Linked DNA regions of Homo sapiens. The protein of the gene in region 1 purifies or fractionates together with the protein of each later gene. This does not show direct contact. Each region holds a gene or a part of one and is shown in the gene's direction. Other genes may lie near its edges.

What was found. The genes of interacting proteins can lie anywhere in the genome.
Region 2: the proteins of ITGB2 (region 1) and AMPD3 purify together in Homo sapiens (affinity purification with mass spectrometry; one large-scale study listed by BioGRID and IntAct). This does not show direct contact.
Region 3: the proteins of ITGB2 (region 1) and SCARF2 purify together in Homo sapiens (affinity purification with mass spectrometry; one large-scale study listed by BioGRID and IntAct). This does not show direct contact.
Region 4: the proteins of ITGB2 (region 1) and TGFBI purify together in Homo sapiens (co-immunoprecipitation; one study listed by IntAct). This does not show direct contact.

The regions. Positions count from the first base shown.
Region 1 is NC_000021.9:44,886,140-44,889,985, reverse strand, and holds part of ITGB2 (integrin beta-2 isoform 1 precursor), read left to right. Parts: coding exon 1-8; intron 9-490; coding exon 491-710; intron 711-1,090; coding exon 1,091-1,293; intron 1,294-3,083; coding exon 3,084-3,250; intron 3,251-3,555; coding exon 3,556-3,618; 3' UTR 3,619-3,846.
Region 2 is NC_000011.10:10,492,319-10,497,441, forward strand, and holds part of AMPD3 (AMP deaminase 3), read left to right. Parts: intron 1-1,030; coding exon 1,031-1,225; intron 1,226-2,580; coding exon 2,581-2,712; intron 2,713-3,251; coding exon 3,252-3,415; intron 3,416-4,493; coding exon 4,494-4,620; intron 4,621-5,123. UniProt on the Homo sapiens protein: AMP deaminase plays a critical role in energy metabolism.
Region 3 is NC_000022.11:20,427,148-20,432,270, reverse strand, and holds part of SCARF2 (scavenger receptor class F member 2 isoform 2 precursor), read left to right. Parts: intron 1-168; coding exon of another isoform or gene 169-282; coding exon 283-341; intron 342-424; coding exon 425-526; intron 527-733; coding exon 734-1,253; intron 1,254-1,362; coding exon 1,363-1,581; intron 1,582-1,713; coding exon 1,714-1,842; intron 1,843-2,437; coding exon 2,438-2,541; intron 2,542-2,617; coding exon 2,618-2,735; intron 2,736-2,915; coding exon of another isoform or gene 2,916-2,930; coding exon 2,931-3,046; intron 3,047-4,652; coding exon of another isoform or gene 4,653-4,720; coding exon 4,721-4,873; intron 4,874-5,123. UniProt on the Homo sapiens protein: Probable adhesion protein, which mediates homophilic and heterophilic interactions. In contrast to SCARF1, it poorly mediates the binding and degradation of acetylated low density lipoprotein (Ac-LDL).
Region 4 is NC_000005.10:136,026,809-136,032,465, forward strand, and holds the start of TGFBI (transforming growth factor-beta-induced protein ig-h3 precursor), read left to right. Parts: upstream 1-2,179; 5' UTR 2,180-2,247; coding exon 2,248-2,381; intron 2,382-5,657.

The DNA.
Region 1 (3,846 bases):
CGGCCCGGGTGAGCCCGTGGGTCCCTGCTGGACAACGGCCGTCCTGCGGCACAGACTTGGTGTTGGGGGGTGCGTTCTGGACCATTCAACGAGTGGAACAGAAAGGGGGGATCCTGAGGACAGACAGTGCAAGTCTCGCCCAGCCACCGGGCGTCAGCAGGAACTTGGATGGCCCTGCACCCCGCCCTGCCTCAGTTTCTGTGTCCATGAGGACAAGGCGTCCTTGTGGGGAGGGCCCACAGGAGGAACGGTCATAGCCCTATTGAGGTCCCATTCACAGCAGGGCAGGGGAGGTCCAGACTGGCCAGGAGGCGGCCACGTGGCTGGCGGGGGCAGAAGGGCCTGGCTAGTGGCCCCATGCCTTTTGCTCAGGAACATCCCCCAGGCTGGAGGAGGCAGGCGGGCCGGAGGGAGCAACCGCAGTGGGGTTTCGGGCGGGTCTCGGTTCCCAGGCCAAGCAGGAGCTTAGCCGTGCTGCCCCGTCTTCCAGGGAGGGGGCTCTGCTTCTGCGGGAAGTGCCGCTGCCACCCGGGCTTTGAGGGCTCAGCGTGCCAGTGCGAGAGGACCACTGAGGGCTGCCTGAACCCGCGGCGTGTTGAGTGTAGTGGTCGTGGCCGGTGCCGCTGCAACGTATGCGAGTGCCATTCAGGCTACCAGCTGCCTCTGTGCCAGGAGTGCCCCGGCTGCCCCTCACCCTGTGGCAAGTACATGTGAGTGCAGGCGGAGCAGGCAGGGCGGGCAGGGATCCCCACTCCCCGGCCACCTACCCAGCAGCCGGGCTCACTCGGGGACCCCAGTGAGCACCTCTGCACCGCGGGGTTCTCTGCGGGTGCGTCTGGACTGAGGGGCCCTCCGCGGCCGCCGTGCCCCTGTGTCCCTCCTCCCTCCTGTGCGCACCTGCCGCGGGCCCTGGGATCAGGCTTCCAGTTCACCCGCTGCACCCGCATCTGCCCCACTTGGGCCCCCTCCTTGGCCTGAGGGCGCCCCAACCCCACCTGCCCCCCCTGGTGGACACACACCCAAGCCCGAGCCCCCGTTGCCGGAGCCCCCGCACACCCTGGCACCGATGCTCACACCTGGCTCCCCGCAGCTCCTGCGCCGAGTGCCTGAAGTTCGAAAAGGGCCCCTTTGGGAAGAACTGCAGCGCGGCGTGTCCGGGCCTGCAGCTGTCGAACAACCCCGTGAAGGGCAGGACCTGCAAGGAGAGGGACTCAGAGGGCTGCTGGGTGGCCTACACGCTGGAGCAGCAGGACGGGATGGACCGCTACCTCATCTATGTGGATGAGAGCCGAGGTGAGGCCGCTGGGGTGCAGCGGGGACCGGCTCCAGAGCTCCGGCTGCGGGGTCTCCGCAGAGGCGAGGGTGGTGCGGAAGGAGGATCTCACCTCCAGTGTTGTGGGCCCAGCAGGGTGGATGAGCCATGCGGGATGCCCTTGGCATTGCAAGGAGGCCAGAGGCCGGTCCCCTCACCCCCAGCAGCCTCCCCTTTCCCTCCCCTCCTCACCTGACCCCACATCAAGCTGGGCAGCAGACGGCCTGCTCCCTGGGGGCACCACTGCTCCACACCGGGCAGGCCCACCAGCATGCCACACGGCCCGGGCCATCTCCCGCTGGATGCCTCATGGGGCAAGGCTTGCAGTTGCAGGTCCCCAGGGGTGGCCCGCGGTCAGGTTGCTGCGTGAGGCTCCTTTGAGGGGATTGGGAGATCCTGGTGCTCGGCTCTCAGCCCTGGAGGGGCCCAGGGCCACCAGGCACCACCGTCCCCATCACTCGTTCGGCTCCAGTCCAGTCGGAACCAGTCCCAGCCCCACAGTGACCTTGGTGGCACTGACCCTGTCTCATTCGGCTCCAGTCGGAACCAGTCCCAGCCCCACAGTGACCTTGGTGGCACTGACCCTGTCTCATTCAGCTCCAGTTGGAACCAGGCCCAGCCCCACGGTGACCTTGGTGACACTGGCCCTGCTTCTTCAGGTCTCATGTTCCACAGGCTCCTGAGAGGCAGAGGGGCTGGGGCTGGGGGGCCGCTGGCGGACTCCATCAGGCATGGCCAGCAGCCGGCCAGGACTCTTGCAGAACTGAGACCTGGGAGCTCCTCCCTCACCAGGAAGGGACCCGAGGCAGGCGGCGGGGGTCTCTGAGCCTGTAGGTGACATGCCTGGAGCTCACAACCCACATGTGGGCCTGGGGCTGCAGACCCCCACCTGCCAGGGCAGGAACCCCTGCGGGCCACTTTGAGGGACAGACTTGGGTCACGTCTGGTTTGTGCAATCCTGGCCAAGTCACTTCACCTTTGAGGACAGGTGAAGGAAGGCAGGTCCCCCAGGAAAGGCAGGATGGCAGGAGGGGGCACGGGGAGTGAGAGTGCAGGTCAGGATGGCAGGAGGGGGCACAGGGAGTGAGGGTGCAGATCAGGATGGCAGGAGCAACCACAGGGAGTGAGGGTGCAGGTCAGGATGGCAGGAGGGGTACAGGGAGTGAGGATGCCAGACCAGGCCAGGGACTGCACTGAACGCTAGTGTCTGTCCCAGGGTCAGCAGCTGTGGGCCTGGCCCACTATGGCCCACAGTCCCCATGCTCAGGAGGTGGGCACAGCTGCCGTGGGAACCAGGACCTTGCGTTGCTCATCCTGGCACCGGCCTCACCTGCTGAGCTCTGGTCTCTGGTCTTGTCCTTGACGACCACAAATCACTTTCACAGTATGGGGAGTGAACTCCAGCAGGGACCCTGAGCCTGGTTCTGAACTCTGCTGTAGGAGAGCGGGGTCCCTCGCACTGTGTCCTACCCCCCAGTATTAGCACTCTGTCCTGGCTGCCCGGTACCCTGGCCCTGCCTTCTTCTCTGTCAGCAGGGGTGGTGGCAATGGCCCTTAGGTTTCATTTGGAACCACAGGGCCTGGCCTGGAATCCAGCAGGGGCTGGGCCAGGTTCTCACTGACCCCTGGCCATGGTGATGGATGGTGAGCCGGGGCCCTGGGAACCTCCGTCTCTCTAAGTGCTGTGTTGTGGGGTGACCTCGGACCTGTGGGCACACGGCTCAGTGAGATGGGGCTGGACTGACGCTCAGGTGTGCTGCTTCTTCCCTAGAGTGTGTGGCAGGCCCCAACATCGCCGCCATCGTCGGGGGCACCGTGGCAGGCATCGTGCTGATCGGCATTCTCCTGCTGGTCATCTGGAAGGCTCTGATCCACCTGAGCGACCTCCGGGAGTACAGGCGCTTTGAGAAGGAGAAGCTCAAGTCCCAGTGGAACAATGTAAGTGGCCGTCCTTGGGGGTCCCACGCAGAGGGGCACGTGCGTCCCACACTATGCGACCTCCTGCTGCGGGAGGCCGTGGACACCCGTGTGTGGCTGCACCCCGGCCTCCCCAGGCAGCTTGTCCTCTGGGCGTCCGCCGCTGTGGGTGAGCTTGGCTGCCGGTGCTGGGACCCTGGGGGGGCTGCCCCACGTCTAGCTCTTCCTCAAAGTGACGGCTTCCATGCGGGGAGTGTCCTCAGGGAGAAAGATTCTGCTCTGAAAACCTCCCACACTCACAAGCCCCTGTTTGCATTTCCCACCAGGATAATCCCCTTTTCAAGAGCGCCACCACGACGGTCATGAACCCCAAGTTTGCTGAGAGTTAGGAGCACTTGGTGAAGACAAGGCCGTCAGGACCCACCATGTCTGCCCCATCACGCGGCCGAGACATGGCTTGCCACAGCTCTTGAGGATGTCACCAATTAACCAGAAATCCAGTTATTTTCCGCCCTCAAAATGACAGCCATGGCCGGCCGGGTGCTTCTGGGGGCTCGTCGGGGGGACAGCTCCACTCTGACTGGCACAGTCTTTGCATGGAGACTTGAGGAGGGAGG
Region 2 (5,123 bases), on another chromosome or scaffold:
GCTTAGGGTCAGTAGAGCGGCTTCCAGTAGAGTGGCTTCTTCTTGGGACTTGGATGCCCTGGAGTTTGGGTGAGGTGTAACTAGTCAAGGAAGGGTGTGTTTGGAGGCTTGGCCTTTAGTGTCTGTTCTTTTCATTCATTCCCACTTGGAGGTTTGCTTTGGGAATGCTCTGAGGGTTCTGAGAGGGATCAATGGGAAGAGTGGGATTTGATGGGCCCTCAGGGTTATCACTAAAACTGTGAGAACCTGTCGTACCTGTTAATTTGTTCATTCATTCATCCATTGGTTCGACTTTGTACTAGGCTCTGGGGTAGGTGCTGAAGACTTAGAGGCATCAAACATGGCCCTTGTCCTTGAGGAGCTCCCAGTCTAGTGAAAGCGTAGACACACAAACGTTAGAGTGATCGGGACGGTCTGCACAACAATGGGATGCCTGTGCCAGGTTTTGAGGTTGGGCAAGGGAAAGAGCATTCAGTTGTGCTTGGAGGAACAAGGTTGGCTCCCAAATGGAGGAGGTTGTGGGAAATTTCTAGGTGGATGAGATGGTGGAGAGAAAGGAGGGCATTCCAGACTGAAGAAACACGTGGGCAAAGGGATGCAGTGTACTGTACCTTGGTGTGTGGTGTACCCGTAAGTGGTTTGTCACGGCTGCAGCACAGAATGGGGCAGTGGCAAGGCGAGAGTTAAGGCTTGAAATAAGCCTTGAATCTCAGGCCAAGGTGCTTGGGCTTTATCTTGAGACTGATGGGCCCATAGGTCATTTGTTAACTGGGGAATGGCCTGATCCAATCTGCATTTTAAAAAGATTTCCTGGTGCTGTAAGGAGGTGGAATGCGCAGCAAGGCTGAAAGGGAGGGATACCAGTTCCGAAGTCTGGAGGAGAAATGGGGGGTGGGATCCAGACACTGGTGGGGCTGCCCGGATGGCCCATGAGGTGCTGGGGTTCTGTGCACATTGAGGGTTGGATGTCTTAACTCTTGTTGCTAGGGGAGGTGGCCTGACTCAGGGCCTGGTGGGCGCTGTGTTCCAGGTGGACACACACATCCATGCGGCCGCCTGCATGAACCAAAAGCATCTGCTGCGCTTCATCAAGCACACATACCAGACGGAGCCTGACAGGACTGTGGCAGAGAAGCGGGGCCGGAAGATCACCCTGCGGCAGGTGTTTGACGGCCTGCACATGGACCCCTACGACCTCACTGTGGACTCACTGGATGTCCACGCGGTGAGTGAGCTTCTGCTCCAGTGCCGCCAGCAGACAGCAGCCCTGGCTGGGGACTCAGCCCCCTGGAAAGCCACCATGATTGTGCTTGCCGGGAGGTGCTACGGAAGCAGCTTTCTCTTCTATCTGACTGAGAGGTCATGCGGCCTCAGAGAATAACAGGTCTGGGGCAGCCATGGGACAGGGAAAGAGGGTGTGTGGCTTGGGGCCTGACAGGTCTAAGCACTAATCCCACTCCTGCCACTTAGGAGTTTTGTGCCCTTAGGCAACTCACAGAAGCCTTTATTTCCTTGCCTATAAAATGGTGACAGCCATGTGCCTTATTAACTTAAAAAAATATTAAAACACTAAATGATGGTGTAACTGCTATGGAAAACAGTATGGTAGTTCCTAAAAAAGTTAAGTATAGAATTACCTATGCCTCAGCAATTCATTTCTAGGTATATACCCAAAAGAACTGAAAGCAGGAACTTGAACAGATACTCACATACCAATGTTCATAGCAGTATTATTCATAGCAGCCAACAGATAGAAACAGCCGGTGTTCATCAACAGATGAATGGGTAAACAAAATGTGGTATATCCATACAACGGAATATCATTCAGCCATAAAAGGGAGTCAAGTACTGTACATGCAACAACCATGAATGGATTTTTCAAAAGATTATACTAAATCGAAGCCAGACACAAAAGGACAAATATCATATGATTCCACTGATATAAGGTCCCTAGAATAGGCAAATTCATAGAAACAGAAAGGAGAGTAGAAGCTACCAGGGGCTGGGGAGAGGAAGGTATGGGAAGTTAGTGTTTAGTGGGTATAGAGTTTGTTTGGGATGATAAAAAAGTTCTGGAAATGGTTAGTGGTGATGGTTGCACAACAATGTCAATGTACTTAAAGCCACTGGAACTGTATGGTTAAAAATGGTTGAAATGGTAAACGTTGTGTTGTACATGCTTTATTAGAACAAAAAAAACTTTTGTTAAACAAAACATTGAATGATATAATGTGGAGAAAGTGCTTTACAAAATGTGAGTAGTGATAGGGAATGTTCTATTATTCAGTGGTGCAGCCTCTCTGCTCACTAAGTCAGCCATGTCCTGAGCCGAGCTGTGGTAACTTGCAGGTGGGGCCTCTGCTGTTCCTTCACAGGGGGCCTTGCCAAAGGATCCCAAGCTGACCGAGTGAGGATCCATGGTCCTGGTGCTCAGGAGTTTCTAAGGTTTCATGCAAGAATTGACATAGAAGATGTCTTTCGGTGTGGCCATACAGAAGGCCGCCTCGTAAAGGTCTAGAGAGGGGAACGTGCATGGTGGCTGCAGAACGATGCGTTGATTGGTGTGGTCTCCCCCCTCAGGGCCGGCAGACATTCCACCGCTTTGACAAGTTCAACTCCAAATACAACCCTGTGGGGGCCAGTGAGCTGCGTGACCTGTATTTGAAAACTGAAAACTATCTGGGAGGAGAGTACTTTGCTCGGATGGTCAAGGTGAGTGAACCCTCAGTCTCTCTGAGGCCTCTCAGGTGCCTCCCAACATCTGCCTTCAGAGAGTGGGGGCCCTGTGTGCCCCTGGCCCCTTCCCCTCCCTCTGTGTACCATCAGCTCAGGGAAGGGTGAGGTGCCCAGGTGCCCAGTGCTGTGGTCTGGCTGCCTGCTCCAGGCAGTGCTGCATGTGCCAACTGCAGGAAAGAGGAGGGAAGGGTATCCACCTTGGCCAAGCTCACAGCACCTGGCCTGGCTTTCGTGTCTCTGCAGCCTGAACCTAGCTGGGTGCAGATGAGCTCCGTGTGGAGATGCTTCTGCTGTGGCCTGGTTCTGCAGACCCAAGGCCTTCCTCACCAGAGGGGGCCTCTCCTAAAGTGGAACAAGAGCTTACAGGAGCAGGCAGCCCTGGGGATTTAGATGAGTGCTTCCAGCCTGGGAGCAAGGTGGCTGGGGGAGCAACAGGACCCTGCTGGTGACGGAGAGTGAGAGTCTCCCATGTAGCTGGGATGCACTGGGGCTGACCCAAGCTCTTCTTGTGCCAGGAGGTTGCCCGGGAGCTGGAGGAGAGCAAGTACCAGTACTCAGAGCCACGGCTCTCCATCTACGGCCGCAGTCCTGAGGAGTGGCCCAACCTGGCCTACTGGTTCATCCAGCACAAGGTCTACTCTCCCAACATGCGCTGGATCATCCAGGTGCCCCGGATTTAGTAAGTGAGGTGGCCCGCTGTCTACCCTGTGCCCTACAGAGGTGACAATCTGTCCCTCATGGGCTGCTGAGTCTGCACTCCTGAGGGGTAGGGCCTGTTCTGGTGCCAGCTTACGCTTGTCCTTTCCAGGGATTTTTCCATAGAAGGAGTGATGAAAAAGATGTCTGCATGACACTAGAGCTCTTTTTTTTTTTTTTTTTTGAGACAGAGTCTCACTCTGTCACCCAGGCTCTGAGTGCAGTGGCATGATCTTGGCTCACTGCAACCTCCACCTCCCTGATTCAAGCAATTCTTTGCCTCAGCCTCCCGAGTAGCTGGGATTACAGGCACCCGCCACCACGTCTGGCCAATTTTTATATTTTTAGTAGAGATGGGGTTTCACCATCTTGGCCAGGCTGGTCTTGAACTCCTGACCTCGTGATCCACCTGCCTCAGCCTCCCAAAATGCTGGGATTACAGGTGTGAGCCACTGCATCCAGCTGACACTAGAACTCTTGATCTTTGAAAAATATAGATGTGCAAAGGCCTTGGGGGAACTACTACCCCCGCCTTCTTCTCATTGTGGGTTGAGGATGGATTGTCCTTTTGGTGAGCCCCAGGGTATGGGGAGAGCTGTAGTGGTCTACATTGCTGGCCTCTCCCTGGATGTCACTCAGACGGCTGCTGTCCTCTCCAGGCGGCTGGCCAGGGTGGAGCCCATGGCTCCAGGATGGGCTGGGGTATGTGGTTTAGGGAAACAGAGCTGAGTAACAGAATGTTTGGGTCACTGGGAATTTGAGGATTCATATCTCAGTCTCTTGGTCAGCCAGAATGCCACCATCCCATTCCTAGTGGCTTCTGGCTTGAGAAAGTGCTCTGATGGGCATGGGTAGGTGTGGAGCTTGCAAACCAAGGCAGAATATTGCAGACATTGCTGGGAGAGGAGGACAGAGGAGGGATCTGTTTTCTGGTCCCATCTGACTTGATTCTGGGTGTTTGATGGGGACACAGGGTGCCTGAGGAAGTGACTGGGGCTGGTCTCTGACAGGGCAGCAGGCTGTTGGATCCACCTGACAAGCGAGTCTTTGCTGTCCCCCAGTGACATATTTAGGTCAAAGAAGCTGCTGCCAAACTTTGGGAAGATGCTGGAGAACATCTTCCTGCCCCTTTTCAAGGCCACTATCAACCCCCAAGATCATCGAGAGCTTCACCTCTTCCTTAAATATGTAAGTGTGGGTGGTGCCCTAGGCAGGGCTCATAGCGGCAGAGGCAGGAATGGATTCGCTGTGAGCTGGGTCAGGCTTGCTCCTGCCCTTCACGATGGTATCTTAGGTCCTGCCACCTGTGTTCCAGGCGTGGGGTCACCAGCCCCAAGAAGCTAGATTTCTAAAAAGTCCCCTTCTCCTCAGGGGCAGCTCTGGGAGTCAGTGGGTGTGGGGGGATGGGGGTGGTGGTCTTGGGGTAGGCCTTTCCCCCAGCAGGGAAGGCAACAGTGGGCAAAGACTGGGAACTCGGTTCCTGCCAGGTGGGGCTGGAAAGGCTGGATCTAGCCCCCGGCAGCACCAAGCAGCAGCCTCAGGTTTTTTTTTCGGAAATGCAAACACTTCAATTCACCTGCTTTACCTCGCAACAGAGGCCCTCACACCATGTGTGATTAAGTACAAGCCCCTAAAGTGTATTTCCCTTCCGGATCCAGTTGTAGGAGAAGGAGAGGAGCAGTCTGGGAGAG
Region 3 (5,123 bases), on another chromosome or scaffold:
AAGGCCACTTTTCTCAGGCCTAATGGCTGTGGGAGGAGGACACAAAGGAGTTAGGTGAGATGGGGTGGGTGGTTCTGGGCTGGAAAGTTCTTGGCGGTGAGGTCTGTTTGTGGCAATCCTCCACCGCCAGACGACTGCCTGGCAGGACCTCATTAACCACCCCCCTAGGACAGGAGCGCAACTGCAGAGGCAGGGAGGCTGTGCGGAGGCTGCGGAGGAGCCCGGAGCAGATGGGGGCTGGGGGAGGGGCATCGGGCTTAGATGTCCTCCCTCTGCTCGCAGCTCCCAGGTGCCCACGTGCTGCGCTGGCTGGAGGCAGCAAGGGGACGAGTGTGGGATTGGTGAGTGGGTCATCCCGGGGACCTGGGGCGGGGGAGGGGGCGGGGCTAGGACGCGCAGCAGCTCTGGCCTGTCTCGTCCACAGCGGTGTGCGAAGGCAACTCCACGTGCTCAGAGAACGAGGTGTGCGTGAGGCCTGGCGAGTGCCGCTGCCGCCACGGCTACTTCGGTGCCAACTGCGACACCAGTGAGCGTGGGGTCGGGCCGGTATTGGTCGGTGGGGCGGAATCCTGGAGAGATGGGGCGGGGTCCAAGGTGGGGCGGGGTCGGATCCGCCTTCGGGGCGGGTCCCCAGAGGTGGCGGCTGGAGTGCGGGACGCGGGCAGGTTCCGGCTGGCTGGGGGCACCTACTCAAGCACCGGGGCCTTCCACCCCCTCCGCTCCTCCCCTGCAGAGTGCCCGCGCCAGTTCTGGGGCCCCGACTGCAAGGAGCTGTGTAGCTGCCACCCACACGGGCAGTGCGAGGACGTGACAGGCCAGTGTACTTGTCACGCGCGGCGCTGGGGCGCGCGCTGCGAGCATGCGTGCCAGTGCCAGCACGGCACGTGCCACCCGCGGAGCGGCGCGTGCCGCTGTGAGCCCGGCTGGTGGGGCGCGCAGTGCGCCAGCGCGTGCTACTGCAGCGCCACGTCGCGCTGCGACCCACAGACCGGCGCCTGCCTGTGCCACGCAGGCTGGTGGGGCCGCAGCTGCAACAACCAGTGCGCCTGCAACTCGTCTCCCTGCGAGCAGCAGAGCGGCCGCTGTCAGTGCCGCGAGCGTACGTTCGGCGCGCGCTGCGATCGCTACTGCCAGTGCTTCCGCGGCCGCTGCCACCCTGTGGACGGCACGTGTGCCTGCGAGCCGGGCTACCGCGGCAAGTACTGTCGCGAGCCGTGCCCCGCCGGCTTCTACGGCTTGGGCTGTCGCCGCCGGTAAGCGCGGTCTCTCGGCCAGGGAGGGAGGAGGTGGAAGGGCGGGCCGCCGATGGGGACAGGGGTGAGGCGGGTCCCAGCCTTCCCTAGCCTCCGACCCCTCCCCCAGGTGTGGCCAGTGCAAGGGCCAGCAGCCGTGCACGGTGGCCGAGGGCCGCTGCTTGACGTGCGAGCCCGGCTGGAACGGAACCAAGTGCGACCAGCCTTGCGCCACCGGTTTCTATGGCGAGGGCTGCAGCCACCGCTGTCCGCCATGCCGCGACGGGCATGCCTGTAACCATGTCACCGGCAAGTGTACGCGCTGCAACGCGGGCTGGATCGGCGACCGGTGAGCAGCCCTGCCTGCGTCGGCCCAGACACGCAGTCCCCCGCCCTGCCTCCCTAACAAAGGCCCCAATGTCGAGGGCGCTGTGGTCCGTTTGCCTCCATTTCTGCTGACGCCTCCTCCCCTCTTTCCAAGGTGCGAGACCAAGTGTAGCAATGGCACTTACGGCGAGGACTGCGCCTTCGTGTGCGCCGACTGCGGCAGCGGACACTGCGACTTCCAGTCGGGGCGCTGCCTGTGCAGCCCTGGCGTCCACGGGCCCCAGTGAGTGCCCCGGGACCGGGAGGGGGTTGGGGGCTTGTACCTGCCACAGAGGGGGGTCCAGCCGACGAGGTGGCCTCTCCACCCTGAGCTGGGTTATCACCTCAGCCTTGGTCCCTTACCCCAGCTAGGGAGTGACAGTAGGCTCTTTGGGGGCAGTTTCCTGCCTGGATGTCGGGGAGCTCACGTTCAGCGCAGGATCTGGTGACCAGTCCAGCCTGTGTCAGTGGGCTCTTAAGGTGACCCCGAGTTGGTACAGAAGGACCAGGGACCTCCACTTACAGCCAAGGGTCTGGTTCAGCAGCCCCTCTTCCCACCTAGCCGAGTCAGCCCCAGCAGTGGGCGCTGCGGCGCGGCCACCACGGGTCCTATCCCCCAGGCCCCCCCACTAGTGTTGTGCAACATTCGTTTCCAAAACATCCACTACCCAATATGTGCCACGGGCGGGGCGGGGCTTCAATCCCTAGACGACGAATGCAGCGAGAGAGAGCCCGGTTCTGGGACCCTGGACCCTGGGCCCTGGCCGCGGGTGAGGGGTGAGGGTAGGGGGCATCCTAGGGGGGCGGCTGTGGCATGCCTTGACCCTATGTCCCGGCAGCTGTAACGTGACGTGCCCGCCCGGACTCCACGGCGCGGACTGTGCTCAGGCCTGCAGCTGCCACGAGGACACGTGCGACCCGGTCACTGGTGCCTGCCACCTAGGTAAGTGGATGAGGGGCGTCCCGTTAAGGAATGCAGGGGGTGCCAGAAACCGCGCTGACCCCATAACCCCCTACAGAAACCAACCAGCGCAAGGGCGTGATGGGCGCGGGCGCGCTGCTCGTCCTGCTCGTCTGCCTGCTGCTCTCGCTGCTCGGCTGCTGCTGCGCTTGCCGCGGCAAGGACCCTACGCGCCGGTGAGCCCAGATACTGCCCCGCTTTCGCCTGGGTTCAGGCCGCACCCTCTGGGTGCCACCGGACCCAGATCCAACCCTTCCGCGCCCCTGCCCCGGACGTGGCCCCGCCCCTTCTGTGCTTGGCTCCGGCCGAGATCTAATCGCCCCTGGGCCCCGCCCCGGCCCCGCCCCTCCGCTCAGACCCCGCCCCCGCAGGGAGCTTTCGCTTGGGAGGAAGAAGGCGCCGCACCGACTATGCGGGCGCTTCAGTCGCATCAGCATGAAGCTGCCCCGGATCCCGCTCCGGAGGCAGAAACTACCCAAAGTCGTAGGTAAGGATGACAGCGCGGGGTATCTGGGAGAAACACCTCTCGACGCAGGAAGCTGCTGGGAAATGGGTGTGAGGGGGTCCAGATCTCAGTGAGGAAATGGGGGACCTTGAGTGTTGATGTGCGTGGGCGCGAGGAGGTGCGACCAGAGGGAAGGTAAGAGGTGTGGCAGCTGCTGAGGGCGAGGCAAGGTAGGAAGGCAGGAGTCCTAGGTGCGCCGGCTGATGTGGGCATATGTCAGAAACGTTGGCCCTGAGAGTGATCGCATCAGGGGTGTGTGGACATCTGGGTCCCGCAGGCTCCCCCAGTCTGTAGGAGAATGCTGTATATCCCGGCCAGAGCTGCTGGGGGAATGCGTGGCCACGGGAGTGCCCTGCCCCACGGAGAGGACCCACCCTCCTGCCTACATCCCCAGCAGTACCCAGAGATCCTCCTGGAAAGTGGGCAGGCTGGTCCCCACCCACCAACAGGATAGGGGGGTGGGGTGTGCCGCTTCTCTCCATGCTGACTTGCACCTGGGTGGACCCTCTCTTCCTCTCTTTCCCACTTATTTCTAAAGATGGAGGGGAAGGGGGCTCAGACTCTTGGGAGATGAAGGAAACAGCTGAGAAAACCCCTTAGCCAAGCCGGGCATGGTGGCTCATGCCTGTAATCTCAGCACTTTGGGAGGCCGAGGCAGGTGGATCACCTGAGGCCTGGAGTTCAAGACCAGCCTGACCAACATGGAGAAACCCGGTCTCTACTAAAAATACGAAAGTAGCCGGGTGTGGTGGCGCATGCCTATAATCCCAGCTACTCTGGAGGCTGAGGCAAGAGAATCACTTGAACCTGGGAGGCAGAGGTTGCAGGGAGGCAGAGGTTGCAGTGAGCCGAGATCGCACCATTGCACTCCAGCCTGGGCAACAAGAGCAAAACTGTCAAGAAAAAAGAGAAGAGAAGAGAGGAGAGGAGAGGAGAAGAGAAGAGAAGAGAAAAGAAGAAAGAGAAGGAAGGGAGGGAGGGAGGGAGGGAGGGAGGAGAAACCCCAAAACTGTCGAAAGAAAAGAAAAAGCAAGCAAGCAAGAGAGAGAAAACCCCTTGGCCCACCTAGCAGCATGGCATCTGGGGACATAGGTGTGGGGAGTGGACCCCACATCCCTCTGTGGAATGGAGGCCAGGCTAGCCAGCTTCTGGGGCCCCCTGTTGTGGGGTCTGCATCTCTGGAGGCCAGGCCTAGGGTGCAGCTTGCTGAGATGGGCTGAGCCAAAGGGCAGCCCTGCCACTGCGCATTTGGGCTCAGAAGTGCTCCAAGGCTTCCTTATTCGCACAAGGCAGGGCCTAAAACAGAGCTTGGAGGCCTTGGTGGCCTGTCCCAGCCAGGTGTCTTCTTCAGCCCCGTCTCCCACCTTTCTGGCCTTTTCTCAACACGTCAGCCCAACCTTTTCCAGCTCCCTGGATGCACACACTTGCCTTGCACCTTAACACATGTTGTGCCCATGTTTCTTTTCTGGGTTCACCTCTACCCATTCTCCAGTCCTGGCCCAGTGTCACTGTACCTGTTGAGTTGCCTGTGCCCCCTGCAGTCCAAGAATAGGGCTGGTCTTGGTCACCCCATCAACATTTGTCACAGCAGGGGCTAATGAGGGCACCGGCTGGGGCAGAGTGGACCCCTGGCAGCTCTGCCTCATCCTTCCCCAGTGGCCCACCACGACCTGGATAACACACTCAACTGCAGCTTCCTGGAGCCACCCTCAGGGCTGGAGCAGCCCTCACCATCCTGGTCCTCTCGGGCCTCCTTCTCCTCGTTTGACACCACTGATGAAGGCCCTGTGTACTGTGTACCCCATGAGGGTAAGTAAGGCCCTACCTGGGCATCACTCCAGCCCAGTGAAATGTTCCCATGGAAAAGCTGTGTTCTGGGTGGGACACAGGAGAAGGGCAGGCAGCATGGAGAGGAAGGCCTTGGCCATGCTGGTACCTGAGGGTTGCCCACAGAGCTGAGGCCATAGAGCTGGACTCTGCTGCTCAGTACCGGAGACAGGTGTGGGGAGATGGGTAGGCCACAGCCCAGGGTTGCTCCTGGGGGAAAGTAGGCAGAGAG
Region 4 (5,657 bases), on another chromosome or scaffold:
AATGTGCACCTTCACCAGCGTGCCCAGCACAGGCATCCCTTCCTGCCAGCTATGAGCCTCGAGGTTAGCTCTACTCCCCCTCCCTAACCCTGCATGCCCAAGGGGTTTCCAAGTCTAATCAATGCTACCACTAAAATCTCCCATACACCTGTTCCCTCCTCTCCACTAGCTTGATCACTCCCCATGCAGGCCCTCAGTTGCTTTATGCTCTCAGTAGGCCCTCCTCCAGTGCCCACACTCTCTCCCTTCTCCTTCCCACCTTCTTTCTACCAGAGTTCTAACCTCTCCAAGCCCCGCTTGTCTTTTTCTTTCCCTGGCTGCCATCCTAACTCGCCCCTTCCCTTCTCAGACAAGCTTCTACATGCTACTCATCTCTCCATCAAACCACCATATTCGGGCTTTGGCCATCTGCTCTCCACAGCCAAGTCCCCAGTGGCCTCTCTGCTTCTGACACAGTGAAAGCCATTCAGATCTGTCTTGTTGGCAGCATTCCTCACTTTGAGCAGCGCCCTCCTACTAGGATACCCCTCCTTGACTACAACCCCACATTCTCTACTTCCTGGGCTCTTCTGTCACTGGAGGATGACTCCCAGGTGTGAATCTTCATCCCGCGTCCCTCACTCAAGCCCCCGATCCTCATATCCAGCTTTATCCTCATGGGATGCTTCACCAGGATGAGTCATAAGCACCTCAGACTCAGGGTGTCCCAAACCACTCATCTACCTGGCAAGCCTGCACTCTGCATGTGCCTCATTCTGAACATGGCACCATCACCTGCTGCAATGTCCAGACCACAAACACCCTACAATATCCTTGACTCTCCTTTCTCCCCTTCTCCCTGTATACAGACTCCAAATTCTATTGAGACTATTACCTCCTACACCCCTCACATTTGCCCAGCCTTCCCCATCTCTGCCTCTACCACCATAGTTCAAGCTCTCCCATGGTCCCTTCCTGGTTACCTGTTCTTCTTGCCTCCTTAAGCCTCTCATGACACTGGCCATGTCACTTGCCTCCACCCATCACCCGCTAGGCTCTTAGCTGGAGTCTGGGCCCTGCTACCTTCCTCCCCTTCTTCCCTACCCTTGACTCCACCTCCCTGTGCTTCAGCCAACCAGATAACTTGAGTTTCGTGAATGCATGCCTCAGTTTACCTGATTAACTCATTTTCATCTTTCAGGCCTCAGAGCAGGTATCACCCTGTCAGGGCCAGGTGCCTCTTCTTAGCTCCCAAAGCCCCAGCTACTCTTCATGGAACATCATTGGCTTGGGCTACGGATCTTCCCAAATTGGAGCTTTTTCACAAAGGGCTTAGGTCTCACTCATTCTATTAATCCATCTGTGTCTCCCCAGGGCTAGCAGTGCCAAGTAACTGACAGGTGATTAATAGATGCTTGGGTAAGTATCACCTCTTTACCATGTGACAATTTGTTTACCTGCCTTGAGCTCCTCCAGGGCAGGACTCTTGCCTTTGCAGAATCTATCTGGCAGGTACTGTTGCAGAGATGTTTACTGAAGAAGGGAATGAATTAGTACCAAGGTGAGGACCCCACCCTTCCCCACGGGCTCCAAAAGCAGCTTAGAGCCCAACAAAACCTGCCCCACATTTTTGGCGTTTCTGTGGATCACACGATTTACTCATCTGTCTTTCAATGAGCATGACAGGTGGGGTGGGGGTGGAGGGATTAGAGATTGAGGAGCTGGGGAGGGTGGTCAGCTCCTGGGGTGCAGAAACAAGTCTGATGGGCCATGGTGTTCTGGGAATCAGCACTGCCTCCCCTCACCCCTCCCTGCAGTGTTTTGTAGCCTCAAGATCAGTGAGGGAATCTTCGGGCCCCCAGCATGCAGGACCGAAGCCCCCGAGACAGCTGTCCCTCAGTCCCAAGGTCCCCATTTGGAAGCAGCCACAGGAGGCCTAAGGGACCTATACCCTTGGTTTGAGGAAGACTGTGGCGAGGGAGAGAGGGAGGGAGGGCTGGCAGTGAGGGCAAGGGCTGGGAAAACTGAGCACGGGCACAGTGCGGGAGCGGGTGGGTGCCCAGGGCAGCCAGGGGCGCACGGGTTGGGAGGCGCCAGGCGGCCCGCCCTCCTTGCACGGGCCGGCCCAGCTTCCCCGCCCCTGGCGTCCGCTCCCTCCCGCTCGCAGCTTACTTAACCTGGCCCGGGCGGCGGAGGCGCTCTCACTTCCCTGGAGCCGCCCGCTTGCCCGTCGGTCGCTAGCTCGCTCGGTGCGCGTCGTCCCGCTCCATGGCGCTCTTCGTGCGGCTGCTGGCTCTCGCCCTGGCTCTGGCCCTGGGCCCCGCCGCGACCCTGGCGGGTCCCGCCAAGTCGCCCTACCAGCTGGTGCTGCAGCACAGCAGGCTCCGGGGCCGCCAGCACGGGTAAGCCGAGCCGCCTGGCCAGGGGCTGCGGAAGGTCAGGTAGTCGGGGCTCGGAGCGCAAGCCGCTGGGGGCATTGAACTGGGCTGGGGGCGCAGGGGACAAAGCCCGAACTAAAAACCTTGCAGCATGGAGCGCTCGGACACCAGCCCTGCACGCGGTGGAAGGAGAGAGGGAGGGAGGTGGAGGACCATGGAGGGAAAGCGGGAGGCCGCCGCTTTGTAGAAGGGAGTGGGGAAGTGGACCAGAGACTTTCGACGCAGGCCAAGAGCCTGAGACGGACAGCGCTTTCAGCTTCTCCTCCCAGCCACTGCAGAAAGGGGGAAATGGCAACTCTTTGGCCATAATCACCGTGGGAGGGTGCCAAGGGCAAAGCCCACCCAGCAGTACACCTATTCCAACCCAGCCAGGCCCCCGGCCAGCGACTCCAGACAAGAACCTGGGCCACACACGGTGGCAGCATCTAAGGTGCCCCAGGCTCCTGTGCTCCTGGCCAGGCCCTGCACTCAGACACTGCTGGCACCCGACACTGCTCTCTGGGTACAGCAAGGGCAATGTGGCACTTCTTGTCCTGCCCGATGAAGAGCAGGAGAATGCACTGGGCCCTCACACACACTGTTCAAATGGGGAAACTGAGTCCTGAGTGGTTCCACTTTCCCACAGTCCTGAAGTGTGCACTGGAGCCAGGATTGGAGTCTGTCTTAAAGTAATAGCTGGGTTTGTAAATGTAGGACACTATCATTGCAGGAATTCCTTTGAGACCCTGAAGATGTGTTGGCTTTAGGAGACAAACTCAAGCAGAAGGTCTGGTCTGATAGTGGCCCTAATACTGACCCAGGCAGAGGCAGGCAACATTTCTACCTCAAAAACCAGGCCATACCTGCGTCACAAATACCCAGGCTTTGCTGCAGCTTCCAGCCTACCTGGTTGCACCAACTTCTTTTTCATAACTAGGTAAAACTATATATGAGTAGAATCTTGTAGTGACTCCTCAGAGGAAGCCTAAATACCATCGGGGTCTGGCGTTCACACCCACAAGCAATGCCCAAACCTCCAAGAGACTGGGCAGATCTGTGCTCAAATCAAAACTCATTGTTGGGGGTGATAGAGTTGACTTCACAGGCCCTGAAAGTCTTGGCTCCTTGCACTAGGAGTGCTCTGGGTACGGGTACAGGCTGCCCCTTGTAGGGCATAGTTGCTCTTGTTTCCTCTACTTGTGGCTTTATGGTCTAGGCCTTTCAGGAGTTTGGGGCTCTGGCGGAGAGGGCCTGCTGGGAGCACATCTGGCCACCCTGCAGAGTGAAATCAAACCAGGCCTGGCTGCAACCTCAACACCCTCCTGGAAAGAGGAGAATACTGGGGATATCCTGGGGTCTTTCTGGAAGTGGGAGAATCAGCTTTGACTTGGGCAGTGTGCAGAATAGAGTGAGGGGGGATGTCAGAAAGATGAGAGGGATATGAGGCCTCAACATCAAAATGCAAGCACCTGGCATTTTTATTATCTCTGCCCACCTCTCCGTTGGTCTCTCTGCCTTTCCTGCCAATGAATTGTGTTATGTTTGGGTGCCTCAATTTGCCTAGGAGGGTTCTATTTCTTCTGTATCTTCGCCACTAAGTCAGGAGAAGATCCTTATAGCATGCCCTGCAACAGTGTCACCTGTAAGGGCATCTCTCTGCACAGCCACAGTGAAGGATCCTCAAAGGTATTGAGGGCTTTCCATCAAGAGCCATCTTTACAGCAAACCTCTTTCCCTTCAGAGCCCAGAAGAGTGCTGACCAGCTGGAAAACAGGGTTTTTTTCTTAAATGCAGATGCTCTTGATTATGAGTTCCAGATATTAGATCAACTTCCCCACCATACCCCTGCAGGCAAAGCCTCTTAATTAGCTTCCTGCAGCACAGCTGGAAAGGCCTATTGTAATCTGTGATGGGCAGAGTAATCTAAGAAGTCACAGGAGCACCCCTGTCCCAGTAGAATCTGGATGCGCAGGCACATGAACCATGGCAAAATGGTTGCAGGCACAGTTGTATTTACTCTGATCTAACTGTCCCTGTTAATGCCACAGGGCTGCCTGGCCTGGCACACAGGGCTGTGGCGCCTTGTGCAAATGGATAACGTTGTTCTAGCTCCAGCCTTTCATTCAAAGTGAAAACTGTTAGAAAGGGAAGGAAAACTTTGCTATTTTAAGGAATTGTAGCGTGCTGCCTGATATGAAGGAAGAAATAACAGCTGTGCCTTGCTTGTGCGCAGCACTCGATTGCCGCTTTTGCTTTCGACCTCACCACAACACAGTGAGATCTACTGTTCATGTTCCCATTTTACAGGAGGTGAAACTGCAGCTTAGTGAGGTAGAGAGTGACTTAGTTCAGACACAGAATGCTGTTGGGAGAGTAATAACTATGATATGGTCTCTTGACTCCCAGCTATATCTGTGTTGCTATAGGGAAGGGGAAAAATAATACTGAAAGAGAAGTAAAAATACAATCACACTTCCAAACATCAACCACCAAAAACTGAACTGAATTTCCTGAAGCACTTGGTTTTCAAATCTAAGCTGAACATCAATGCTGTTATTCTTGAGGCCCAGAAGCAACTTGCTCATTTCAATTAAGCTTCAGCATGAACTTCCTATGTACACAGCCCACCCACACTCCCCGATGTGAGAAGGAGAGGGTCACAGCCGCCCCCAGCCTCTGCTGCTGCCACAAGGACAGCAGCAGTGGAAACATTCAGCAAAGGAATGTTGGAGCCACATCCACAAGAGACTCACTGAAGATTCGCCAAACGCCTACGGAAAGTGGCAGGGAATTCATTGACAGTAATTGTTTCCTGCTTGATCAGATTGAAGAGCTTCTGGGATTCTGTAACAATAAATAGGACCGGGGGCTGGAGTATGGCCAGCAAGGACTCTTCAGGGGTTATTCAGGGACTGTCTAACCTGTGAATCCTAGGCAGCAAACAGAAACCAGGTATTCAGAAATCTGGAGGATTTGGTCAGGCCCAGCTAGGACTAGGGAGGCATGGGCCTCTGCTGGCTGTGGTCCCTTCTCCAGCCTTCACTTCTCTTGTCCCTAGATCCTTACATGGATTCATTAATGCTCATTGTCCCTCCTGGGCCCACTCACTTTCACCTGTTGAACAAAAAACTGGCCAAGAGGTGACAGTCATATCACCGCAGAAGAGACAGGGCAGAGAAATGAAGGGGCAGAATGGACTCCCACCCAAAAGCCTGACTCTGAATATTTGAGAATTGTTCAAGTTCCTGCAGAGGAATCATG